Regions from separate parts of the Homo sapiens genome. Here region 2 is linked to region 1. The links come from fine-mapping of genetic effects on gene expression. A gene starts in region 1. The other region holds a variant in brackets. All regions are shown on one strand. Distances are from middle to middle.

Region 1 (12,162 bases):
TCGAAGCAGCCTTGAGAAACATCGCCCATTATCTCTCCATACCACCCCCAAAATTTGTCACTGCTCCAACACTTCACCACTATTTTGTTTTGCTTTTCTTATTAATATAAGAAGACAGGAATGTCAGCCCTCTGAGCCCAAGCTAAGCCATCATATCCCGTGACCTGCATATACATCCAGATGGCCTGAAGCAACTGAAGATCCACAAAGGAAGTGAAAATAGCCTTAACTGATGACATTCCACCATTGTGATTTGTTTCTGCCCCATCCTAACTGATCAATGTACTTTGTAATCTCTCCCACCCTTAAGAAGGTTCTTTGTAATTCTCCCCACCCTTGAGAGTGTACTTTGTGAGATCCACCCCCTGCCGGCAAAACATTGCTCCTAACCCAACCGCCTACCCCAAACCTGTAAGAACTAATGATAATCCACCACCCTTTGCTGACTCTTTTCAGAATCAGCCCGCCTGCACCCAGGTGAAATAAACAGCCTTGTTGCTCACACAAAGCCTGTTTGGTGGGCTTTTCACACGGAGGCGCTAACACAAGGTGTATAAGAAAAGTAAATATACCTTTGGTAAAAGGATTATAAGAAGGCATAAGAATGTAAATTTTTACCTAGATTAAAAGGTTAAAAAAATTGTTTTGAAGGTTTAAGCAAGTTTTAAAACATTAATTATAAAAAAATTCTGTGTGTAAACGTATTAGCTAAAGTTAAAGGGGTATCATCCAGTTTTTCTGTGAACTGGACATTAAAGTAAAAACACAATGGGTTTTTCTTAAAGCACTAACTTGCTCTTTAACAAAGATTATAAAAGGTTAAAAAGAGTCTATAAAAATCTTACCTTACGGTCTGACATTAAAAATTGAATAAATATGTATACAAAGTTTTATTAAAACTAAGTTTAACATTAATAGCACACTAATATAAAGGTGAAATTTAGCTTATCTGGTATAAAAATCATACAGAAAGCATTATTAAATATAAAACAGTGTTTGGCTTTCTTTGGTCCAAAAACTAATAAAAATAGGTGGTAAAGGAAATTTCTCAGTAAAAAGGCACCAAAGCCTATAAAGTCCACTCTTGATGTCCCCACATTTGAAACAAAAAATCAATTTCTTAGAAATTATATACTTGGTTTGTCTTCCACTTTCCTTTCCCTCAAAACTAAAAGCCTTTTAGCACAGGTGCCAGCCCTAGAATTTCCAGTAAACCAGCACCAGCCTGAAGATCACCTTCTTATCAAAGGGAGGAAAGAAAACAAATTTTTCAAAGGAAAAGTTTTTCTTATCAAAGGAAAGAAAGAAAACAAAGGGAGGAAAGAAAACAAGCCAGCCTAGGAAGGACCCGACCTTGTGCTGCTAACCACCGAGACTGCTGTCCCTACAGTGGAAAAGGGATGGACTCATCACACCCGAGTCAAAGCTCCACCCCCTCCGGAGTCGTGGGCCCCAGTCCAAGGGGAAAACCCTACCAAACTAAAGCTAAGAAATATTTAACTCTTTTATCTATTCTATTACTCTTTCTTCTTTCCTCGCTCTATTGCTGACCATCTGGTTATTAACACAACCAAATCAATTTCACCTCAAACTATTGCATTTAATGCTTGTCTTGTTATACCCTGTGGGGACTTGCCAAGTCGAAGACAGCTCTCTACTTCAGAAAAGTACTTCTGTCCCTCCTGACTCTCCTCAGACTGGGCATTAGTAAATTAGGACCATTTAATCCGGGGGAATTTCAATAAAGACTCCAGTGTCAACCAGGAGTCTTGCTCCCCAATGTAGAGCTTTTATGCCGTAGTTGGTCCAACATTCTGTGGACCACTAAAGAGCAAGAATGGACTGCCCCAACCAGTTTTTGTAATTTCCCAAAATCATACATTCATTTTACTAGAAGTTCATATTAGTTAAAGACTTAAAACAAACTTTGGCAATTAAGACAGCATACCAAGATGCAAATGCCTGGTTGAAATGGATCAAATATTCCATCCGCACGTTAAACAAAAGCAACTGTTACGCTTGTGCACATGGCAGGCCAGAGGTCCTGATTGTCCCCTTTCCACTAAGGTGGTCCTCCAGTCGACCAGGTGTGGCTGCATGGTAGCTCTTCTCCAGGATTCTACAGCCTGGAGTAATAAGTTGTGCCAAGCTCTCTCTGCTGTATCCGAAAGTCTGGCGCCTTGCGGGTCAGCCCCCGAGGGCCATCGAGCCGCCGTCTCCCAATACTAAGTTCACTTCGTGTCTCTCATGACAGGGAGGAAACTTAGCATTCCTTGGAAACCTGAAGGGATGCAGTGAGCTTAAAAATTTTCAAGAGCCTATCAATCAGCCAGCCCTTGTTCATCCCTGAGTGGATGTGAGCGGATGTGTGGTGGTATTGTGGTGGACCTTTACTGGGCACTCTGCCGAATAACTGGAGTGGCGCTTGTACTTTAGTCCGATTGGCTATCCCTTTCACCCTGGCATTCCATCAACCAGAGGGAGGAAAAATAAGACATCGTAAAGCAAGAGAAGCCCCTTATGGGTCTTTCGACTCTCATTTCCATTTAGACGCAATTGGAGTCCCACGGGGAATACTAGATCAATTTAAAACTTGAAATCAAATAGCGGCAGGATTTGAGTCAATATTTTGGTAGATGACAGTTAATAAAAATGTAAATTGGATAAACTACATCTATTACAACAAACAGCAACAAGCTTTTCATGAGTTAAAAGAAAAACGTAGGCCCCAGCCCTGGGGCTATCAGACCTGACAAAACCCTTTACACCCTATGTGTCAGAAAGAGAAAAAATGCAGTTGGAGTTTTAACCCAGACTGTGGGACCCTGGCTAAGGCCAGTGGCCTATCTCTCAAAACAACTAGACGGGGTTTCCAAAGCCTGGCCCCCGTGTCTAAGGGCCCTGGCAGCAACGGCCCTGTTAGCACAAGAAGCAGATAAACTAACCCTTGGACAAAACCTGAATATAAAGGCCCCCCACGCTGTGGTAACTTTAATGACTACCAAAGGTCATCACTGGTTAACAAATGCTAGATTAACCAAGTACCAAAGCTTGCTACGTGAAAATCCCCACATAACCACTGCAGTTTGCAACACGCTAAACCCCGCCACCTTGCTCCTGATATGAGAGAGCCCAGTTGAACATAACTGTGTAGAGGTGTTGGACTCAGTTTATTCTAGCAGGCGCAACCTCCGAGACCATCCTTGAACATCAGTAGGCTGTGAGTGGTACGTGGACGGAAGCAGCTTCGCCAGCCCCTGCAAAGTGACTCTGAGGAAGACGACAAGCCCTGCTCCAGTCACAACTGGAAGCTGACTGGTCCACACACGGCCGAAGCATGAGAAAACTCATCGTGGGACTCATTTTCCTTAAAATTTGGACTTGTACAGTAAGGACTTCAACTGACCTTCCTCAGACTGAGGACTGTTCCCAGTGTATACATCAAGTCACTGAGGTAGGACAAAAAGTTGCCACAGTCCTATTATTTTATGATTATTGTAAGTGTACCAGGACTCTAAAAAAAAAAAAAGTTTGTATAATGCTATTCTATGCAAGGTATGTAGCCCAAGAAATGACCAACCTGATGTGTGTTATGACCTGAGTCTCCCATGACCACAGCTTTTGAAATAAGATTAAGGACTGAGGACTGGTAGGGACTCATAAACGATACGAGTAAAGTGTTAGCCAAAATGAAAGAAAAAGGGGTGCCCAAACAAGTCACTTTAAAGTTTGATGCCTGTGCTGTCATTAATAGTAATAAGTTAAAAATAGAATGTGGTTCCCTTAATTAGAAAAGAGGCCATATGACAAAAAATAAGTACATTTGTCATAAATTAAAACTGTGTGGAAATAAATGTAAATACTGGTCTTGTGTCATTTAGGCTACTTAAATAAAAAATAAAAAGGATCCTGTCCACCTTCAAAAAGGAAAAAGTGGCCCTTCCTGTACCAGTGGTCAGTGTAACCCCTTAGAACTAGTAATAACCAACCCCCTTGATCCTCGCTGGAAAAAAGGGGAGCATGTAACCCTAGGAATCAATGGGGCTGAACTGGATCCTTGAGTAAATATCATGGTTTGAGGAGAAATTTATAAACGCTCTCCTGAGACAGTATTTCAAACCTTCTATGATCAACTGAATGTGCCTGCACCAGAAATTCCAGGAAAAACAAGACATTTGTTTTTGCAATTAGCCGAGCATGTGGCCCAGTCTCTCAATGTCACTTCATGTTATGTGTGTGGACGAACTGTAATGGGAGATCAATGGCCACGGGAAGCCCGAGAATTAGTACCTACAGACCCAGTTCCTGATGAATTCCCGGCTCAAAAGAATCACCCTGATAACTTCTGGGTCCTAAAAGCCTCAATCATTAGACAATACTGTATATAGCAAGAGTGGGGAAGGACTTCACCTTTCCTGTGGGAAGACTCAGCTGCTTAGGCAAAAACTGTATAATACTACTACAAAAACAGCCACCTAGTGGAGTTCAAACCACACTAAGAAAAATCCATTTAGTAAATTCCCAAAGTTGCAAACTGTGTGAACCCACCCGGAGTCCCACAGGGACTGGACAGCCCCCACTGGATTATACTGGATATGTAGGCATAGAGTTTACACCAAATTACCCGACCAGTGGGCAGGTAGTCATGTTATTGGCACTATTAAACCATCTTTCTTCCTACTGCCCATAAAGACAGGCGAACTCCTGGGCTTCCCTGTCTGTGCTTCCCGCAAAAAGAGAAGCATAGCTATAAAAAATTCAAAAGATAATACATGGCCCCCTGAAAGAATCATACAATATTATGGGCCTGGTACTTAGGCACAAGATGGCTCCTAGGGATACCCGACCCCCATTTACATGCTCAACCGAATCATACGGTTACAAGCTGTCTTAGAAATAATCACTAATAAGACCGGCAGAGCCTTGACTATTCTGGCCTGGCAAGAAACTCAGATGAGAAATGCTATCTATCAAAATAGATTGGCTCTCGACTACTTGCTAGCAGCTGAAGGAGAGGTCTGTAAAAAATTTAACCTTACTAATTGCTGTCTACACATAGATGATCGAGGGCAATTAGTTGAAGACACAGTTAGAAATATGACAAAACTGGCACATGTGCCCGTGCAAGTGTGGCATGGATTTGGTCCTGGGGCCATGTTTGGAAAATGGTTCCCAGCACTAAAAAGATTTAAAACTCTTATATTAGGAGTTACAATAGCAATAGAAACCTGCGTTCTGCTCCCTTGTTTGCTACCCATACTTCTTCAAATGATAAAAAGCTTCATCGCTACCTTAGTTCACCAAAATGCTTCAGCACAACTGTACTATATGAATCACTATCGATCTGTCTTGCAAGAAAACATAGGTAGTAAAAATAAAAGTGACAACTCCCACTACTGAGTGAGATTCTCAGAGAGGGAGAATAAGGGAGACCACCCCTCATATTGTTTTACGCCCAATTTCTGCCTCCAAAGAGAGAAGTAAAAACTAAAAGGCAGAAATGAAATCCACAAGCAGACAGCCTGCACCACACCCTGGGCCTGGTAGTTAAAGATCGACGCCTGACCTAATCAGTGATGCTATCTATAGATTACAGACGTTATATAGAAAAGCACCGTGAAAATCCCTGTCCTGTTCTGTTCCGTTCTAATTACGGGTGCATGCAGCCCCCAGTCACGTACCCCCTGCTTGCTCAATCAATCACGACCCTCTCACGCAGACCCCTGAAGAGTTGTGAGCCCTTAAAAGGGACAGGAATTGCTCACTCGGGGAGCTCGGTTGTTGGAGACGTGAGTCTTGCCGAAGCTCCCAGCTGAATAAAGCCCTTCTTTAACTCGGTGTCTGAGGGGTTTTGTCTGCGGCTTGTCCTGCTACACTCTGGTGGGAAAGACACCGCAGCAGGGGAGCAGGGTGCGCAGGGTGCAGTGGGTGACGCTCATTCGCTGAAAACTGACCCTGCTTTCAAAGCCTTGTCAGTTCCCAAAGCTGTATGAAGCCTTTCCTGAGCCTCAACCTCTAGAGTCTAATTTCATCCTCTGTATTTTCCCCTTTGTTAGTCCAAACTGCGTCATTTTGTAAGCCCCTTTCCATTTTGTAGACCTTGGTCAAAGTGAAACATTCCACGGGGGTTCGAGCCATGAGAAACAGCCTGCCTCTTAACATATTCTGCTGGGACAAAGCGCCAGGAACACCACATTCTGCCGGAACCACCTCATCCTGGGAACACGTTAACATCTTCCCGGACAGCAAGCCATACTGCCTAGATCCCTCCTGCCCAGGCCTATGAGTACCCCAGCCTGTAATCGCTGGTGGGCTCTGGCATTAAGCTGGCCCCCGACAGGTGTTTGCAATACACCTGTGTTGCTGTAGAGCCGCCCGCGCGCCGGCAATCTCACTGTGCGTCATTCTTTAACCTTCACCTTCCCTTCAAAACCTAACACCCTTGACGTTTATATTCAGGCTATTATATATACATACACACATACACCCTTCTGAATCCTCCCAGGAGAATATAAAACCATGGGTTAAACTGCTACACTTCAGCTTCAGTGGCTGCCTTTCAGTGCTTCAAATACACCAACCTCTTTCCCACCCCGGGACCTGCACGAGAAAGCTGCTCCACTCACCCGCCGTGCTCTTTCACTCACCCTTCAGGTGTCTTCAATATCGCCTCTCAGGCCTTTCCCAACCACCGGTTTAAAGTCGGCTCCCCACAAATAAATACATATTCTCCCTCACAGTACTTCGCACAACACCTGGCACAGCGAGAGCACTGAACCAACACTCATTCAATGAGGAACACGAGGTAAGAACCAAGACCCCCCAAGGTCGCCGTACTTTGTCTGGTAGGAGAAGCTTTCTGCCCAGCAAGGTCCGACCCAGATGAAACCCCGTCCAAGTCTGCAGCACCCCCGTGAGTCCAGCCCGCTAAACTGTGAAGAATTTAAATACACGACACCTGCCCTCAAAAGCTTGAGGGCACCCCTGAGCTGCCATCGAGGTGGGGGCGTCAACGACAGGCGCTCAGTAAGTGCTCCTGAGGCAACTGCCGGGCTGTCCTGGACCTGGTGAATCCTTTCGGGGTTCAGCAAAGGCGGACGCTGACCGGGCCAAGGAGTGGGACCTGCAGTGCTGGACCACCCTTTTCCAAGCGCAGAAGTGCCGTGCCCGCCGGCTCTCAACAGGGCAAGAGGCCCCTCTCGCCGTGCAGAGCGCAGCGCTTGCGGCGGGGACAGCAGAGGCGGGACGGGCGTCACGGAGTTCCCGGGTCCTCGCGCGGTCACTTACCTGGCCTCAGCTATCCGCTGAAAAAGGGGCGGACGGCCTCCCGGGATCCGAGCCGATATCGCGCGCGGCGCCGCGGGGCAACCTGAAGCCGTGTGCGTGCGTGTGCGTTCACGCAGGGGCTCACCCAGCGGCCACGGGCTTCTGAAGACCCGGGTGGGAAGTGCGGCCCGGGAAAGCGCAAGCGTCTCCATGGCAACGAGGGCGGACGGCGTCAGAGCGAGTCGCTTCCGGAAGTGACGTGCGGAAGGGGTGCCCGGGACGAAGCCATGGCCCTGGAGGCGGCGGGAGGGCCGCCGGAGGAAACGCTGTCACTGTGGAAACGGTAATGCTGTCAGGCGACGCGCAGGAGGCGGGGGCCGAGGCCGGGCGGCCCTTCGCGGACCCTCCGAGCTCATAGTCTTCAGGCTGTGGAATCGGAGCTGCCACCGCCCGAGACTCCAAAGCAAAGCCCAGTTTCCGGCGCGGAAGCGGAGGGATCTCAGGAATTGTAGTCCGCGGGGTGGGCGCGGTTCTCGCTTCCGGCCAGTTTGTCTGGCCTGCGCTTGCGCGGGTCTCCGCCGCCTGGGCTCCTAGGGACTGTGGCCTCGGCGGTATGTCCCTTGCTTTCCCTTGAAGCGGGAGAAGACCCGGCAGAGGCGCTCTGTCCGCTGCAGCCGCGCGGGTGGAGGAGGCAGAGTCTGAGGTGTGACCCCGACCAAGTTTGACGCTTCTGTCCTCCTAGGGAGCAAGCTCGGCTGAAGGCCCACGTCGTAGACCGGGACACCGAGGCGTGGCAGCGAGACCCCGCCTTCTCGGGTCTGCAGAGGGTCGGGGGCGTTGACGTGTCCTTCGTGAAAGGGGACAGTGTCCGCGCTTGTGCTTCCCTGGTGGTGCTCAGCTTCCCTGAGCTCGAGGTAACCTGGGAGGACGCCGAGCTCGAGGCGGGCCCCTCGGTGGGCTCGGGCGTGCGGTCTCCGGGACAGGGAGCAGTGCAAGCGTAGAACCCGGCTTCTCGTTTTGTAGGATGTCATTAATAGTCTGGGGAGTTGGCCGGGCGCGGTGGCTCACGCCTGCAATCCCAGCACTTTGGGAGGCTGAGGCGGGGGAATCACCTGAGGTCGGGAGTTCGAGACCAGCCTGACCAACATGGAGAAACCCGGTCTCTACTAAAAATACAAAATTAGACGGGTGTGGTGGCATATACCTGTAATCCCAGCTACTCGGAAGGCTGAGGCGGGAGAATCGCTTGAACCCGGGAGGCGGAGGTTGCGGTGAGCCAACATCACGCCATTGCACTCCAGCCTCGGCAACAAGAGCGAAACTCCATCTCAAAAAAAAAAAAAAAAAAAAAAAGTCTGGGGAGTCTTGGAAGGGAAAAAAAGGCAAAAATTAAGGGAATTCTGTGACTATTAAGAATCAGCTCATGAGCTTTATCTTCAAGTCTGATTGTTATCTTGGGTTCTTCATCTCAGTGACCTGTCCACCACGCTCCCAGTTGCCCAAGCTGGAGATCTGCATCCTCCTGGGCCCCTCCGTTCCTCTCGCGTCCAGTTGCACACTAGCTCGCTTTTATTCTGCCTCTTAAATGTCGCTGGAATCTGTCCCCTTGTCTGTTTCCCCTCTGCTCCTTCCCTGGCTGTGCCACCATCACTCCTGTGGGTTCCTGAGCAGCATTTTCATGGGTGCCCTGGCTCAAATGTTCCTCCTCAGTGGTTTCTTTTCCATACTGCCAGCAGACCAATTTTCCTAAAAAGCAAGTATTTTCCTCAAAAGCAACAAGTCCCCTCCCTCCCTCCCTCCCTCCCTTCCTTCCTTCCTTCCTTCCTCCCTTCCTTCCTCTCTCTGTCTCTCTTTCCTTCCTTTCCCCTTCCCCCACTCTGTGCCCAGGCTGAAGTGCAGTGGCATAATCTTGGCTCACTGTCAAGATCTGATCTCAACCTCCTGGACTCAAGTGATCCTCCCACCTTAGCCTGAGTAGCTAGGACCACAGGTGTGAGCCACTACACCCGGCTTATTTTTTTATTTTTTGTAGAGACAGGATCTCACTATGTTGCCCAGGGTGGTCTCCAGCTCCTGGGCTCAAGGGATCCTCCTACCTTGGCCTCCCCAAGTGCTGAGATTACAGGTGGGAACCACCACACCCAGCCCACAAGTCCTCTTAGAACATTGAAGTGCCCTTCTCATGACCTCATGGTGAATAAAGTTCACTCTGGTTGGCATGGCTTCAAGGCCCGTCATGACCTGTCCCCTGCGTAATTTAATATGACGCTGGAGGCTCAGCCCTCACCACTATTCTCAGTTCTTCCCACCTCCTACAGCCCACTGTGAGTCCCTCACGTGTTTGCTACGCTGTATTTGGCGGCCTGACCTTTGCAGTAATGTTTCTTCTGGAAGGGTTTCCATCTGGCTAACTACTACTCATCTCTTTGGGCTCAGTTTAGACATGACGTCCTCCACTAAGCTCCCTCTCATCCCACAAGACGAGGACTTGTCCCTCAGCACCATGTCTTAGTCCGTTTGGGCTGCTGTAATAGAATACCTTAGACTGGGTGGCCTACCCACAGCAGGAATTTATTTCTCACAGTTCTGGAGGCTGGAGGCTCAAGATCAGGGTGCCAGCGCAATCAGGTTGTGGTGACGGCGCTCTTTCAGGTTGCACAGGGCCAGCTTCTTAACCGTGTTCTCACATGGTGATCCACTCACCTCCCTAGAGGCCCCACCTCGTAATACCATCACCTATGGGTTATAATTTCAACATAGGAATTTGGGGAGGACACCAGCATTTAGACCGTAGCAACCCTCTGCTTCCTCTTGTCTTGCTGGGATGGAACTGGCCTGTCTTCCCTACTGGAATATAAACTCCATGATGGTAGAAACCATGTTGCTTTGCCCACCATGGATAGCATGAGGAAGACGCTGGACTCTTCCTTCAAGAGATACGTGTGTGAATGGACAGTGGGCTCATGATTCACATAAGAGTCAACAGCTCCGGAAGCCTCTTGGCGTCACTCGCATTGCTCCTCTGCTGACTCCCGAAGGTGACAAACGTCTTCCTGCTTCCATGGCTTTGTGCTTTACTTGGGAGGCCCTTTTCAGTCCAAATCAAGCAAAAATGTACTGAGTGCCTACTGTGTGCTAAGATTGGGATATTCAGCAGCCCCTACTCTAAGAGGTCCCCTGGCCATTGTGTAGGCTAGCATAGGGAGTGGGGACACAGTCTTAGGGTCCTGACTACTCATGCTCACACCCAACTCTGCCACTCCCCACTTTGCCCTCTAGGCCTCTGTCTCCTTTTTTCTGACTTGAGGATGATAGTGGTATTAATATCCAGCTCACAGAATTGTGATGAGCAGTACATGAAATGCATGGAAAGCAGTTAACACAGCATTCCCTTCCCCCTCCAACTTCTCCTGGCTGCAAATTAATCACCTCATCTGCATCCTGGGCCTCTTTTGAATGCACATGCTGTTAGAGCGCTTCTCACATTGTATTAAAGTTAGTCATTTATGATTCCATTTTTCCCACTGACTGTAGGTTCTCAAGAGTAGGGTGTACCATATTTCTTTTACAACCCCAGCACCAAGCAAAGCACCTGCTACTTCGTCGGTATTCATTGTTCCGGCTATGAAAGCTTAGACTAGGAAAGGATCTTGGAACAGTCTGGTCCACTGGTTCCTGAATGCCCGACCGTGGACCTGCAGGAGCAGAATCACCCAGAAGTGTGTTGAGAAACAGATTCCGTAGGCACATCCACAGAGACAGAAAGTGGATCCTTGGGCCTTGGAGTTGGGGTGGGATGGATGGGAAGTGACTGCTGATGAGGATGAGGTTTATTTAGGGGTTAAGGAAAATGTTCTAAAGTTAGATTGTAGTGATATTGCACAACTCTGTAAATACCAAAACCATCGCATTATATGTTTTAAACAAGTGAACTTTATGGTATGTTAATTGTATCTCAGTAAACCTGTTAGGAAAAAAAACAGGCCGGGCGCAGTGGTTCATGCCTGTAATCCCAGCACTTTGGGAGGCTGAGGCGGCTGGATCACGAGGTCAGGCGATCGAGACCATCCTGGCTAACACGGTGAAACCCTGTGTCTACTAAAAATACAAAAAAAATCAGCCGGGCATGGTGGCGGGCACCTGTAGTCCCAGCTACTCGGGAGGCTGAGGCAGGAGAATGGCGTGAACCTGGGAGGCGGAGCTTGCAGTGAGCCGAGATCGCGTCAGTGCACTCCAGCCTGAGCAACAGAGCAGGACTCTGTCAAAAAAAAAAAAAAAAAAACAGATTCCAGAGCCCTACCCCACTTACTGGGGGAAAAACTCTCCCAGAGTATAGCATAAGAATCTGCTTTTTAAAATAAGCTTTCCTGTGATTCTGAAGCAGAGCTGGGCTGGAGAACCACTGGCCTGCTTTTCCCACCGTGAAGAACACTGTCCTTAGCATCCCTGACAAACGATGGCGGAGCCCGTTCTGTGCCAGATGCTGAGCCATGGCTGGTGTGTGCTGCTCCGCAGGCCTCTGGCGGAGCCCATTCCATGCCAGATGCTGAGCGATGGCTGGTGTGTGCTGCTCCACAGGCCTGGTGGAGCCTGTTGTGTGCTGGACGCTGAGCAATGGCTAGTGTGTTCTGCTCCGCAGGGAGCTGACTCCTACTTGTCTGTGACTCCCATCGATCAGTTCTGCCTTCAGGTAGCAAAACAGAACGGATCTTCCCTGCCTTCTGCTTGTCAGCCCTTCTGCTGCTGGAAACAGCTGCCTGCTCCTTGACCACACTGTCCCAAGAGGCTGCGATGACGTCCAGCTTCTTCACTGGTCAGTGGCCCTCTGGTCATGCCCTCCGTTCACACAATCCATCTTTCCGTCTGCACTCAGAATCAAATGCAGGAACTTGGATG
Region 2 (12,162 bases), 22 kb before region 1:
GGTCTCAAACTCCCAAGCTCAGGCAATCCACCCGCCTCGGCCTCCCAAAGTGCTAGGATTACAAGCGGGAGCCACTGCGCCCAGCCAGCACTGTTAACGCTTAACTTGTGTCTCTTTTGATGGTGGTGTCTGGATAAGTAAAATAATGTGTCAGGAAAATAAACCCTCAGTACTCTTCAGTCCCTAAATATGGCATCAAAAGGGAGCTGAAAGCATTTGAAACTCTATCAGCATATGAGATGGGGCAGAACCGAGACCCGGCTCCCGGCTGTGTGTGGAGCTGATGGCTTCTGCATCCCTCCTCCCCACGCCTAGATTCTGTGAGGAGTTGGAACTCCTCTCTGCTTAAGCATAACCCTGTCGTTTAAAGGTGAGATCAACCTACCCAAAGACTACTGCAGCACTGACTTGGATCTGGACACTGAGTTTGAGATCCTCTTGCCACGCCGACGGGGCCTGGGCCTCTGTGCTACCGCTCTCGTCAGCTACTTGATTCGCCTACACAATGAAATTGTCTACGCCGTGGAAAAACTCTCCAAGGAAAACAACAGGTTTGTGCACGAGCCACCAGGAAGTGGTGCCTGCTCAGCCCAGAGTCCCTAAGCCCAGTGGGGCAGACACAAGCAAGCTTCAGCCCCTTCCCTAACAGACACTCACTCCTTCAGCCGCCCCCACCAGTGACCCGCCCCATACTTGGGTAGGGTTTTCCACTGCTCCAACTGTGAGAAATGGGAGCCTGCTCCCTGCAACATAGAGCCCTAGGCCCGCATGCCTGGCCTGGACGCTGAGCGCTGTCTTTCTGCCCCTCAGCTATTCCGTGGATGCCGCCGAGGTCACTGAACTGCATGTCATCAGTTATGAAGTGGAGCGGGACCTGACTCCACTGATTCTCTCCAACTGCCAGTACCAGGTGGAGGAGGGCAGAGAGACCGTGCAGGAGTTCGATCTGGAGAAGATTCAGCGGCAGATCGTCAGCCGCTTCCTCCAGGGCAAGCCCCGGCTGAGCCTCAAGGTAGGGCTGACTCCTGCCACTGCTGCTCATTTGGTGTGTCTGTTGTGAACAAGCAGCCCTTGGTGTGTTTCTCGAGAGAGGGAAGCAGCACCTCACCCTGCAGTCTGGTCTGTATCTCCTCCCTCACACCTGCAGCTCCCGAGGCCACCACGCCACCTGTATCTCCGGGCCGCAGGGCTCTCCTGAGCCCTCTCCTGCAGGGCCATCTGCACCTCAGTCCCCCAAGGAACTGTTGAGGTCTTTTTTTGAAACAGGGTCTCACTCTGTCACCGAGGCTGCAGGGCAGTGGTGCCAAGCCTCCACCTCTGGGCTCAAGCGATCCTCTCACATCAGCTTCCCAAATAGCTGAGATCACAAGTGTGCACCACCATGCCCAGCTAATTTGTGTATTTTTTGGTAGAGATGGGGCTTCACCACGTTGCCCGGCTGGTCTCGAACTCTTGGGATCAAGGGATCCACCCGCCTAGGCCTCCCAAAGTGCTGGGATTATAGGCGTGAGCCACTGCACCCAGCTGATTGTTGAGGTCTTGATTCTACCAGTTAATGGCACCACCACCCCCACAGCCCCTCTTCCTTCAGCCTCCATGGGTAACCTGCCAGCAGATGCCATTAGCTGTGCCTTCTGTGTGTCCTCACCTGACTGCCAAAGCCCACCCTGTAGTTAAAAGCATCCTGTACGTTGGACTGCTAGCCACTCCTAACTGGTGCCCACCTCCAGGTTCTTCAGTCCACGGCCTAAAACCCACATCTGGCTCTCTTCATCCTGTGCCGGATGGACCTGCCTGGCCTCTCATGGCATATGGGATAAAGCCGACACTCTGTTGTCTGGTATGGGAGGCCCTGTAGCTCGGCCCAGCCCAACCTTCCAGCCCTGCCTCCAGCCACTTAGCCCATTTCCCTGAACTGCATCCCGTGACCTCATGCACTGAAGCCACACAGCAGGCACTTTCCCATCTCTGTTCTTTGACTGGACGCACTTGTTCCTTCCAGCTGCAGTCATATCTACTGTACTTATGTACGGTACCACCCGCAACTGGGCCAGGAACTGTGAGAGCCCATGGATTTTTTTTTTTTTTTTTTTTTTTTGAGACGGAGTCTCGCTCTGTCACCCAGGCTGGATTGCAGTGGCGCAATCTCAGCTTGCTGCAAGCTCCACCTCCCGGGTTCACTCATGCCATTCTCCTGCCGCAGCCTCCCGAGTAGCTGGGACTACAGGCGCCCGCCACCATGCCCGGCTAATTTTTTTGTATTTTTAGTAGAGACGGGGTTTCACCATGTTAGCCAGGATGGTCTCGATCTCTTGACTTCGTGATCTGCCCGTCTCTGCCTCCCAAAGGCTGTTTTTAATTCATTCTCACAGCCATTTCCTCTGGCAGAGTGACTGCCTGTGCATGGTCTGTGCCTTTAGTGGCTGAATGAATAAATGAATGGGATATGCACAAATACCTGTTGCCCTAGCGCCTCCTGTGGCGAAGCAGGCCACGATGATGTGACAATATCTTGTCATGTAATTGGCTGTGAGGACTCCGCTGGATTCCCGGTTGTGTTACTATTTCCATAGATGGTGGGTTAATGACGGAGAGGGGCGCTCTTAGCCAAGGGATACACAGGGCAGCGCGGCACTACGCTGCAGTTTTCCGGCTGCAGATTCTGTTTGTCATCTGCTGGAAATGTCCACGATGGATTTAATTTTAAAAAACTTTTTTCTTTCCCAATTTAGGGAATACCCACTCTGGTGTACAGACACGACTGGAACTATGAACATCTCTTTATGGACATCAAGAACAAAATGGCACAGGTGATCCCGATAAACCTGATCCTGTGCACGGGGCTTTCTGCCTTCTCAGTGTGTTTCCCTCCGTGTTAGGCCTACTCCAGCCTTGCCCCGGGTGTTTGCTGTGAGCCCACAGTTTCTGCGGCCTCCCTTACAGAGAGCAAGCAAGACAGCAAATCAGCAAGTTTTCTTGTAGAGTAAAAGCAGATTGACATCTTGTGGGTTTGATTCTTAGGAATGATGTTGATGCATGGCCATGCCTGCTGAAGCGGGAAGTCCATGGAACCGATTTGTTCCTGCTCTCCGCATGCGGGTACTGATAGGTAGACCTGTGTGTCTCCATGGCCTCCAGGAACTGCCTGCACACCGTGCGCCCAAGTGTCAGCTGTTAGAGAGTTGGCCCCCCGCATGTGGCTTGGGCAGTGAAGGGGCTCGGCTCTCTTACCAGGTGGTGAGATGCCAGAAACCCAGCCCACAGACATCCCTCTCCTGCTTTTCATTTCCCAGGACTCCCTCCCCAGCTCGGTCATTAGTGCCATCAGTGGACAGCTGCAGTCCTACAGCGATGCCTGTGAAGTGCTGTCTGTCGTAGAAGTCACTCTGGGGTTTCTGAGCACAGCTGGTGGGGATCCAAACATGCAGCTGAATGTGTATACTCAAGACATCCTGCAAATGGGTGATCAGACGATTCACGTGTTAAAGGTGGGTCTCACACCGAAAAGGAAATCAGCACAGCCCCTCACCCTGGTCTCCTGCTTCCCGCGAGGGATAGGAGCATTCAGGGAGTGCCACTCTAGGCGCTCCTGAAAAGGATGGGGAGACAAGAACAACTGCTCACCCAGTCAGTCCAGCATAAACAGGACACACCAGGGACAGTAGAGACAGACACGCGCTAGAAATGCCAGCAGTCTAGATAGAGCCCAAATGTGACTGAGTACATGAGGCCCCTGCAAACAGCGTGATGTGAGCGGGCTGTGAGGTGCCGCAGGAGGGAACTGGTAGATAGGACAGAGATGGCCTTCACAAGGAGGGAGATCACATTAGTACAGGGCAGAACGAAGAGAAGAATGCCTGTGTGGAGAGCACTCAGGCTCCCTGGTGCACGACATGAGTGGGGGTGTGAGACCTCAGCCCCCACTCAGGAATTCTATTCCTTCTGCAGGCCTTAAACAGATGCCAGTTAAAACACACCATTGCCCTCTGGCAGTTCCTGTCTGCTCATAAGTCTGAACAGCTGCTGCGGCTGCACAAAGTAAGTCTGGTCTCTTCCTCTCTGCTGGACAGAGGGACTGCGCTCCCTTCTCCCTGCAGGCTTTAATGCTTCATTTGCTCTTCCGTCGTTTTAGGAGCCATTTGGGGAAATCAGTTCAAGGTACAAAGCGGATCTGAGCCCGGAAAATGCTAAGCTCCTCAGCACATTCCTAAATCAGACTGGCCTAGACGCCTTCCTGCTAGAGCTGCACGAAATGATAATCTTGAAACTAAAGAACCCCCAAACCCAAACCGAGGAGCGCTTCCGCCCTCAGTGGAGGTATGGATTTGCACACCTATGGGGCGGGGCAGACACAATGTTGTGCTGTCTCTCCTGTGATCTTCTATAGACACAAAAATAGTTCTTTTCTTACCACAGAATCCCATTTCCTGCTTTTTGTCATTACCAGGGCACCTGAGGACTGGCTTTTTGGTTTTAATCTCTACTGGGTTTTCTTTAAGCAATTACACAAGTGTTTTTCAGACAAGAGTCTTGCCCTGTTACCCAGGCTGGAGTGCAGTGGAGTAATCTCAACTCACTGCAACCTTGGCTCACTGCAACCTCTGCCTCCCAGGTTCAAGCGAGTCTCATGCCTCAGCTTCCCAAATAGCTGGGACTACAGGCGTGTACCACCATGCCTGGCTAATTTTTGTATTTTTAGTAGAGACAGAGTTTCACTGTGTTGGCCAGGCTGGTCTCGAACTCCTGGCCTGAAATGATCTGCCCGCTTTGGCCTCTCAAAGTGCTAGAATGAAAAGGCGTGAGCCACTACACCCAGCCTAAAAGTCATATATTCTAATTTTATAACAAGTAGACTATGTCAAAGAGAGGTACATTTTAAATTTGATAGAAAAAGCTATCCTAGGCCGGGTGTGGAGGCTTACCCTGTAATCCCAGCACTTTGGGAGGCCGAGGTGGGTGGATCACCTGAGGTCAGGAGTTCAAGACCAGCCTGGCCAACTGGTGAAACTCTGTTTCTACTAAAAATACAAAAATTAGCCAGGCATGGTGGTACACACCTGCAGTCCCACCTACTCAGGAGGCTGAGGCAGGAGAATTGCTTTAACCTGGGAGGTGGAGATTGCAGTGAGCTGAGATCGCACCACTGCACTCCAGCCTGGGCAACAGAGGGAGACTTCATCTCAAAAACAAACAAAAAAAAGAATAGAAAAAGCTATACCAATGTATAAAGAGTGTATGAGAATACTCAACATTGGATATTATCCATCTTTTACATAGTTGCCAATCTAAAGGCCAAAATGGTATCTCATTTTCAGTTGTATTTCCCCATTTACCGTGAGGCTGAACATGTTTTTTATATTTATCACCCATTTGTATATCATCCTCTGAATTGCCTTTATGTTTTATTTTTTGAGACCGTGTCTCACTCCCACCCAAGCTGGAGTGCAGTGGCGCAATCTTGGCTTAGTGCAACCGCTGCCTTCTGGGTTCAATCGATTCTCCTGCCTTAGCCTCCCTAGTAGCTGGGATTACAGGTGCCAACCATCACGCCCAGCTAATTTTTTCTATTTTAGTACAGAGACGGGGTTTCTCCACGTGGCCAGGCTGGTCTCGAGCTCCTGACCTCAAGTGATTCACAAGCTTTGGCCACCACACCCAGCCTAAATTACCTCTTCGTATCTTTTTCTTTTGCGCTTTGTCTCTGTAATGGTTGTGAGAGCTCTTTGCATAGAACAGGGGTTCATCTTCTCTGCCGTGTGCCACAGTGCTCTATTTCAGCCTTTAATTTTATGAAGTCAAATCTGACAGAATTTTCCTATAAAGGGTCTCTATACAAAAACACTTACTAGGATCTTCCTTATCCCAGGATTATAAACTAGCCTTTTTTTTTTTTTTTTTTTTTTTTTTTTGAGATGGAGTCTTGCTGTGTCATCCAGGCTAGAGTGCAATGGTGTCATCTTAGCTCACTGCAACCTCTGCCTCCTGGGTTCAAGCGATTCTCCTGCCTCAGCCTCCCGAGTAGCTGGGACTACAGGCATGCACCTGCCCGGCTAATTTTTTTGTACTTTTAGTAGAGACGGGTTTCACCATGTTGACCAGGCTGGTCTCGATCTCCTGACCTCAAGTGATCTGCCCGTCTCGGCCTCCCAAAGTGCTAGGATTACAGGCGTGAGCCACTGCGCCCGGCCTGTCCTCTCTCTTCTTGTGCTTTCACA[T/A]ACTTGTTTTATTCACCAGTTTATGTTTAGGTGTAAAGTAAGGATTTAACTTGATGTTTTCCTGACTAGATCATCAAACTCCAGTCTTCCTCACCAATATGTTTCCTATTTGCTATCTTCCTCCATTATGCTATGTGGCATATACCATATACATTTATGTTCTTTCAACTTTTTCAACAAGTCTTTACTAGCCTGTGCTTTTCATGTAGATAAAAAAGATCCCTTTCCTAGAGAATTTCCAGTCTTTGTTAATGTGAAACATGTAATAGAATACAAGGTTTTTTGAATGGTGAGGCCTTGTTTATGCAACCCTGTAAATAAACATCACCTTGCTAGAGGGCCTAAAGTCATGTGAAGGGGCCAGCACAGGGCTTGCTCCGTGGGCTTCTGTCGTGTTTGTGTACTGCATGTGGGAAGCAGCAGTCAGGCACCAGAGCCTTGAACCCAGGATGCTAGTCCCAGTTCAGGAGCTCAGGTCATTGACCTTAAACTGCTCCTCAGGATTTCTGGGTTTTTTTTTTTTCTCGCTCTGTCGCCCAGGCTGGAGTGCAGTGGTGCAATCTCGGCTCACTGCAAGCTCCACCTCCTGGGTTCAAGTGATTTTCCTGCCTCAGCCTCCCGAGTAGCTGGGATTACAGGCACCCACCGCCATGCCTGGCTAATTTTTGTATTTTTACTAGAGACAGGGTTTCTCCATGTTGGCTAGGCTGGTCTCGAACTCCTGACTTCAAGTGATCCACCTGCCTCAGCCTCCCAAAGTGCTAGGATTATAGGCGTGAGCCACTGCGCCTGGCCTAGGATTTTAAGTCTTAACGAGCATTTTGGTTCTGCTGATGACAACGGGAAAAAGTAACATGAGGGGACTGATTGGTCCCCTTATGTTATATGGGAGCCTTTTTTTTTGAGACAGGATCTCACTGTGGCCCAGGCTGGAGTGCAGTTGTGCAATCTCAGCTCGCTGTAGCCTCCACCTCCTGGACTCAAGTGGTCCTCCCACCTCAGCCTCCTGAGTAGCTTCGGACTATAGGCATACACCACCACGTGCCCAGCTAATTTTTGTATTTTTGCTAGAGACAGGGTTTCGCCATGTTGCCCAGGCTGGTCTTGAACTCCTGACCTCCACTGACCCACCCACCTCAGCCTCCCACAGTGCTGGGCTTACACACGTGAGCCACACAGTGCTGGGCTTACACACGTGAGCCACCATGCTGAGGAGACTGTTTTAAATGCTCTCTTCTTTGGTTTTTCAGCCTGAGAGACACTCTCGTAAGTTACATGCAAACTAAAGAAAGTGAAATTCTTCCTGAAATGGCATCTCAGTTCCCAGAAGAGATACTGCTCGCCAGCTGTGTCTCAGTGTGGAAAACAGCTGCTGTGCTGAAATGGAATCGAGAAATGAGATAGAATTATTTCCTCAGCTATCTTTGGATGACTTTGGAGAGAAGACTCCTCTCTCCTCGTCTGCGGCGTGGACTTGATCATGGACTGGTGCCTTTGCATTCAGAAGGAGAGCTGTCAGCGTAGCACCGAATTCAAGACCAAGGCGTGCTACCTGAGCTGACAGCTTTTTGAAAGCCGAGCTGTTTCTGAACCATGTACATACATGTTCTGAAACTTTCTCATCATTTTATGAGTACTGTTCATTGAGAGATGACAATGAAGATTAGATGAAATTGGAAATAAACCAACATTGTTTACATTCCAGGAGACTTGTAGCTCAGCCACACACGCAGTAATGACCTGTGCCCGTTCGCCTCTGGCACTGCCCACCCCTCTTTTTTTTTTTCTTCTAATTCTGTACTCACAAAAGAGAATCTCATTTTCTTCTTTCTTCCATTCCCTTAAATTCTGAGTACTGTACATATATTTCTGGGTTCCCACGATGATGTGAAAAACTACCAGACTGTTTTTTGTCTTCTCACAAAGACAAGAAAAATCAGGGCATTTTGTGAGTGCCTTAAGATCAAACTAACAAGATCTGACCCTCTCCCCTCACAGTGAGCCACTGCCCCACTTCAGAGGGTAAGAGCCAAAAGCCTCATTGTGAAAGGCACTGGACTTGGACCAGGGACACCATCAGGGCCTTGGTTTTCTCACGCATAAAATGGAGAGTGGATTAATCGCCAAAGATTCTTCTGATCTGACATTTTGAAATTGTGAGAGAAACTAGATGACTGTAAACTTGGTCACAGGCCTGGTTCTGGCAGTTCTTTGCGGACTTTTTTCTAGCATTATGCCAAATAAACATGCAGTCTCAGTGTGCTCTCGCATGTATGAATATCTAGTCCTTTCTGTGGTTCTCAGCCAAGACATAAAAACTAGGACTCAGAGCACATACAAAACCAGTTATGTTTCGGAAAGAGGGAAAAGAGTCCCCGAGCCCGGATCTTGTGCTGCTTTTCTCACTGACGTGTTGCCTTTTTTCTTTACAAAATCTGCTTTGATACTTAGGACCTCTCTGGACTAATTTCTCTTCCTAGACAGCTCAGCACAGCTATTGATATGTTAGAGGCAGTATCCTTAATATTCATTCTAAATGAGTTAACGACTTAACTTGAAATTGGGCCTAAGGAGTGAGAACTACAAAAATACAAAATGCTTGTCCAGGACTCAGCCATGCACACCTTGAGCAGCGCCGGCAGGAGGCACGGAAGGAACTGTGCTCCGTTCTCCTCACTGTCATGGTGCCACCAGTGTCTGATGAAGGGCAGAGTGACCCAGACTGCAGGCAGTAACTGACTTCACACAGTCCCTGGCATTTAGTCATCTGTGATTGTTTTATCACTCTGGACTGTGCAGAGCCACCTGCCACCGAGATCTGCATTCCGACTGCCTATGAACGGGTGTGGGGGCCGGGGGCTGGCTTGCTGAAGTCTTCAACTTGCACTCGGAGCTCCTTTGATACCTCAGAGCTGGCTGTCAGGTGGCAGCTCACACCCAGACTCACTGGCCACACCTCAGCAGGGGGGGAGTCGAGTGTCAGTCTCTTTCTGTGAAGGCTTTTTTTTTCCTTTGGCCTGGGAATTTTTCCCATTTTTATGAAGGGGTTTTAAATTGTTTCATTTTGTGTGCTGTGCTTCAAAGCCTTAACTGTCAAATCTTGCATTATCTTGTTTGTACAGAAATATACTGGCCTAGCAGAGGCAAAAAAAAAAAAAATGAATTTTATTTTACTTGTCACACCTGTCTTAATAAACTGGAGTTTTGCTGCTAAAGAACTCTTCTCTCTGGGGGCAGAGCTTCTATTTATGGCACATAGACATCAGCTAGGCTTTTGGGAATCGTTTGTGTTCTTTGTGGAAATGTCCTTTAGAAGCACCCATGAAGTAGTGTGTTCAGACTGTGCACACAGAAAACAGGCTCTGCCTTCACATGTGAGACGGTGGACTTTTCCTCTGGACAAAATGACAGCATCCTGGCGACTCCACAGTGGAGCTGAGCGCCACTCCCTGTAGCCGATCTGGGACTGAAACGCTTACACCTCTGCCTCAGAAGGAGTCCCCCATGCCCTGCCTGAAATGACTTCACTGGACACAGCGGGGCTGCAGCTAACGGGGTACAGGTAGGAGCTAACTAACTTCACCCCTGAGTCCACTTGCGGGGTAAGAGATAAACAGTAACCCTTCCAGGAGCCCACTGACGTTGGAGTGCTAAAAATGCCCCTTCAGGGGGAAAACTGCATTTTCTCTTCCAAAAAGGAAAGGTTCTTCCAGGCGAGAAACCTGTGGTCTAGAACCACAGCAAGAAGAGGAGGCATGCTGGCCTGCACCGGAAGACTCACTTTGTCTGCCCTGCGCCAGCCTCACCTCACCCTGCAGTTCCCGTTTCCGCCATGGATGCCTCATCACCAACCCTGACCTTCCCCCTCCCAACCCTTTATTCATCCTCACTCCCACTCATACCCGCCTCCCTGGACAGTTCCCTGCTGCAGAGTTCTTTCTGCTTTCAGCCCTACCTTGGTGGTGATTTACCTGAAAATCTTCACAACTGATCATTATCTCCTTCTCTTTGAGACCTGACTGAAAAAATTAGGTGTGCACACCTGTAATCCCAGCTACCTGGGAGGCTGAGGTATGAGGATTGCTTGAGCCTGGGAGTTTGAGGCTGCAGTGAGCTATGATTGCACCACTGCACTCCAACCTGGGTGACAGAGTGAGACCCTGTCTCAAAAAAAAATAAAATAAGGACCTTATTGTGTGTGCAAATTATTTGCCTTTCATGAATAGTTATGAGACTTTGTGCATGTGTTAACCGAGACGGCCCTGAGCTATTTCAGTTACTCCTGTATGTTCAGGCAATTCCAATTTAGAAACAAACTTCCAGTGATAAATATTGGGAAGAAAATGTCAGCTCAGGGCCAAGTAGGTAAAGCCACCCAAGTCTAGCCATGCACACAGGCACTAGTGTGCTGAAGGAAAACACCTCTGATTTGATACATAAAGTGTGAAGGTTGCATAACTGGGGAGGTGGCTGGAGAAAACCTGAGCCTCGAGCTGAGTAACAATCCAAGCCATGATTAGCATTTATATTGCATTCTGCATTATTCTCATCCTATCACGTTCATTAAGTTCAACCATTACCATTACGAATCCCGTTTCCAGCTGGAAAAACAAGCGCCAGGAAAGTGCATTTCCCCCCCACCCCCCCCCCCCAACCAGAGCAACTTTGGTCAGAAGTCACACCTAATCACCCTCTCTGCAGGATATGCTGGGGATAGCCCTTTTGAGGAGGTGGGGGTGTATGCGAAAGCAACCTGGGGCCAAAGCAGGGGGAAGCAGGAGAGACTGGAGGGGCCCTGGGTCCAGCAAGTGCTCCACCAGGCTGCCCCTGCTCAGGTGCTCCACAGCCCATAAAAAACGCCTTCAGCCCTGCTGTGCTTCCCCTCACACCTAAACTTACTATAAGGGTCCTACCTTCCCCAGTATTCCTTCATGATCACTGCTACCTGTGCCCTGAAGCGCAACAGAACCTCAACCCAGAGGACAGCCACTTCCTCAGAACCCACGATCTTTGCCCCATCGCCACAGGTCCATGAGTGACTCCTAATTACCAAATCCAAGGGCTCCTTCACCCTGACCACTCTGGAACCCAACAAAGCTGACACACAGCCCAGCCCAGACAGGCCTGAATGTGGGTCCTGGCTCTCCCATTTGCCAGTTCTACAGCCATGGGCAAGTGGCTCGACCTCTCTAAGCTTCAGTTTCCTCGTCTGTGAAATATCTGTCAGTGCTCTTAAGGGAGGAGACCACCCCACATATTGTCTTACGCCCAATTTCTGCCTCCAAAGAGAGAAGTAAAAACTAAAAGGCAGAAATGAAATCCACAAGCAGACAGCCTGCACCACACCCTGGGCCTGGTAGTTAAAGATCGACGCCTGACCTAATCAGTGATGCTATCTATAGATTACAGACATTATATAGAAAAGCACCGTGAAAATCCCTGTCCTGTTCTGTTCCGTTCTAATTACGGGTGCATGCAGCCCCCAGTCACGTACCCCCTGCTTGCTCAATCAATCACGACCCTCTCACGCAGACCCCTTAAGAGTTGTGAGCCCTTAAAAGGGACAGGAATTGCTCACTCGGGGAGCTCAGTTGTTGGAGACATGAGTCTTGCCGAAGCGCCCGGCTGAATAAAGCCCTTCTTTAACTCGTGTCTGAGGGGTTTTCTCTGCAGCTTGTCCTGCTACATTTCTTGGTTCCCTGACCAGGAATCTAGGTGATTAATGGATGGTTGAGGCAGCCCCTCAGACGGCTTAGGCCTGCCCTGTGGAGCATCCCTGTGGAGGACTCCAGCCAGCTTGAGCGACATGGATCCTGAGAGCGCTCTCAGGCAGGCAATTGCCCCAGTGGAATGCCTGGCCAGAGCAGTGTGTAGCAGGCCCCCGAGGAGGATCAACGCAGTGGCTGAACACCGGGAAGGAACTGCCACTTGGAGTCCAGACATCTGA

Direction of the effects. Positions count from the first base shown, and alleles are read on the strand shown. Sizes are in standard deviations (SD) of each study's normalised expression.
For the expression in unexposed skin of the gene that starts at base 7,526 in region 1, allele A in region 2 goes with a lower level than allele T (small effect, 0.16 SD a copy in GTEx).

The links.
Region 2: its variant is fine-mapped to the expression of ENDOV in unexposed skin (GTEx, PIP 0.96).

What each region holds. Positions count from the first base shown.
Region 1 is chr17:80,407,642-80,419,803 of GRCh38, forward strand. ENDOV (endonuclease V) reads left to right here and starts at 7,526. Exons shown (of 10, transcript NM_173627.5): 1 at 7,526-7,609; 2 at 8,009-8,180. The coding sequence starts at 7,554. It overlaps RNF213-AS1 (RNF213 antisense RNA 1), which reads right to left and starts at 7,527. Exons shown (of 2, transcript NR_029376.1): 1 at 7,288-7,527. It overlaps MIR4730 (microRNA 4730), which reads left to right and starts at 11,777; the gene lies at 11,777-11,852. RefSeq lists an enhancer at 7,959-8,048.
Region 2 is chr17:80,385,880-80,398,041 of GRCh38, forward strand. It overlaps RNF213 (ring finger protein 213), which reads left to right. Exons shown (of 68, transcript NM_001256071.3): 62 at 371-551; 63 at 811-1,012; 64 at 2,733-2,810; 65 at 3,294-3,488; 66 at 3,949-4,038; 67 at 4,133-4,317; 68 at 7,466-12,162. The coding sequence ends at 7,619. The region is part of intron 1 of RNF213-AS1 (RNF213 antisense RNA 1); the gene reads right to left. Among named protein-coding and RNA genes, the nearest start is that of ENDOV, 23 kb to the right of the region's middle. RefSeq lists enhancers at 1-630, 9,390-9,891, 11,537-12,044, 12,045-12,162. The variant T/A (reference allele first, on the strand shown) is at 6,216.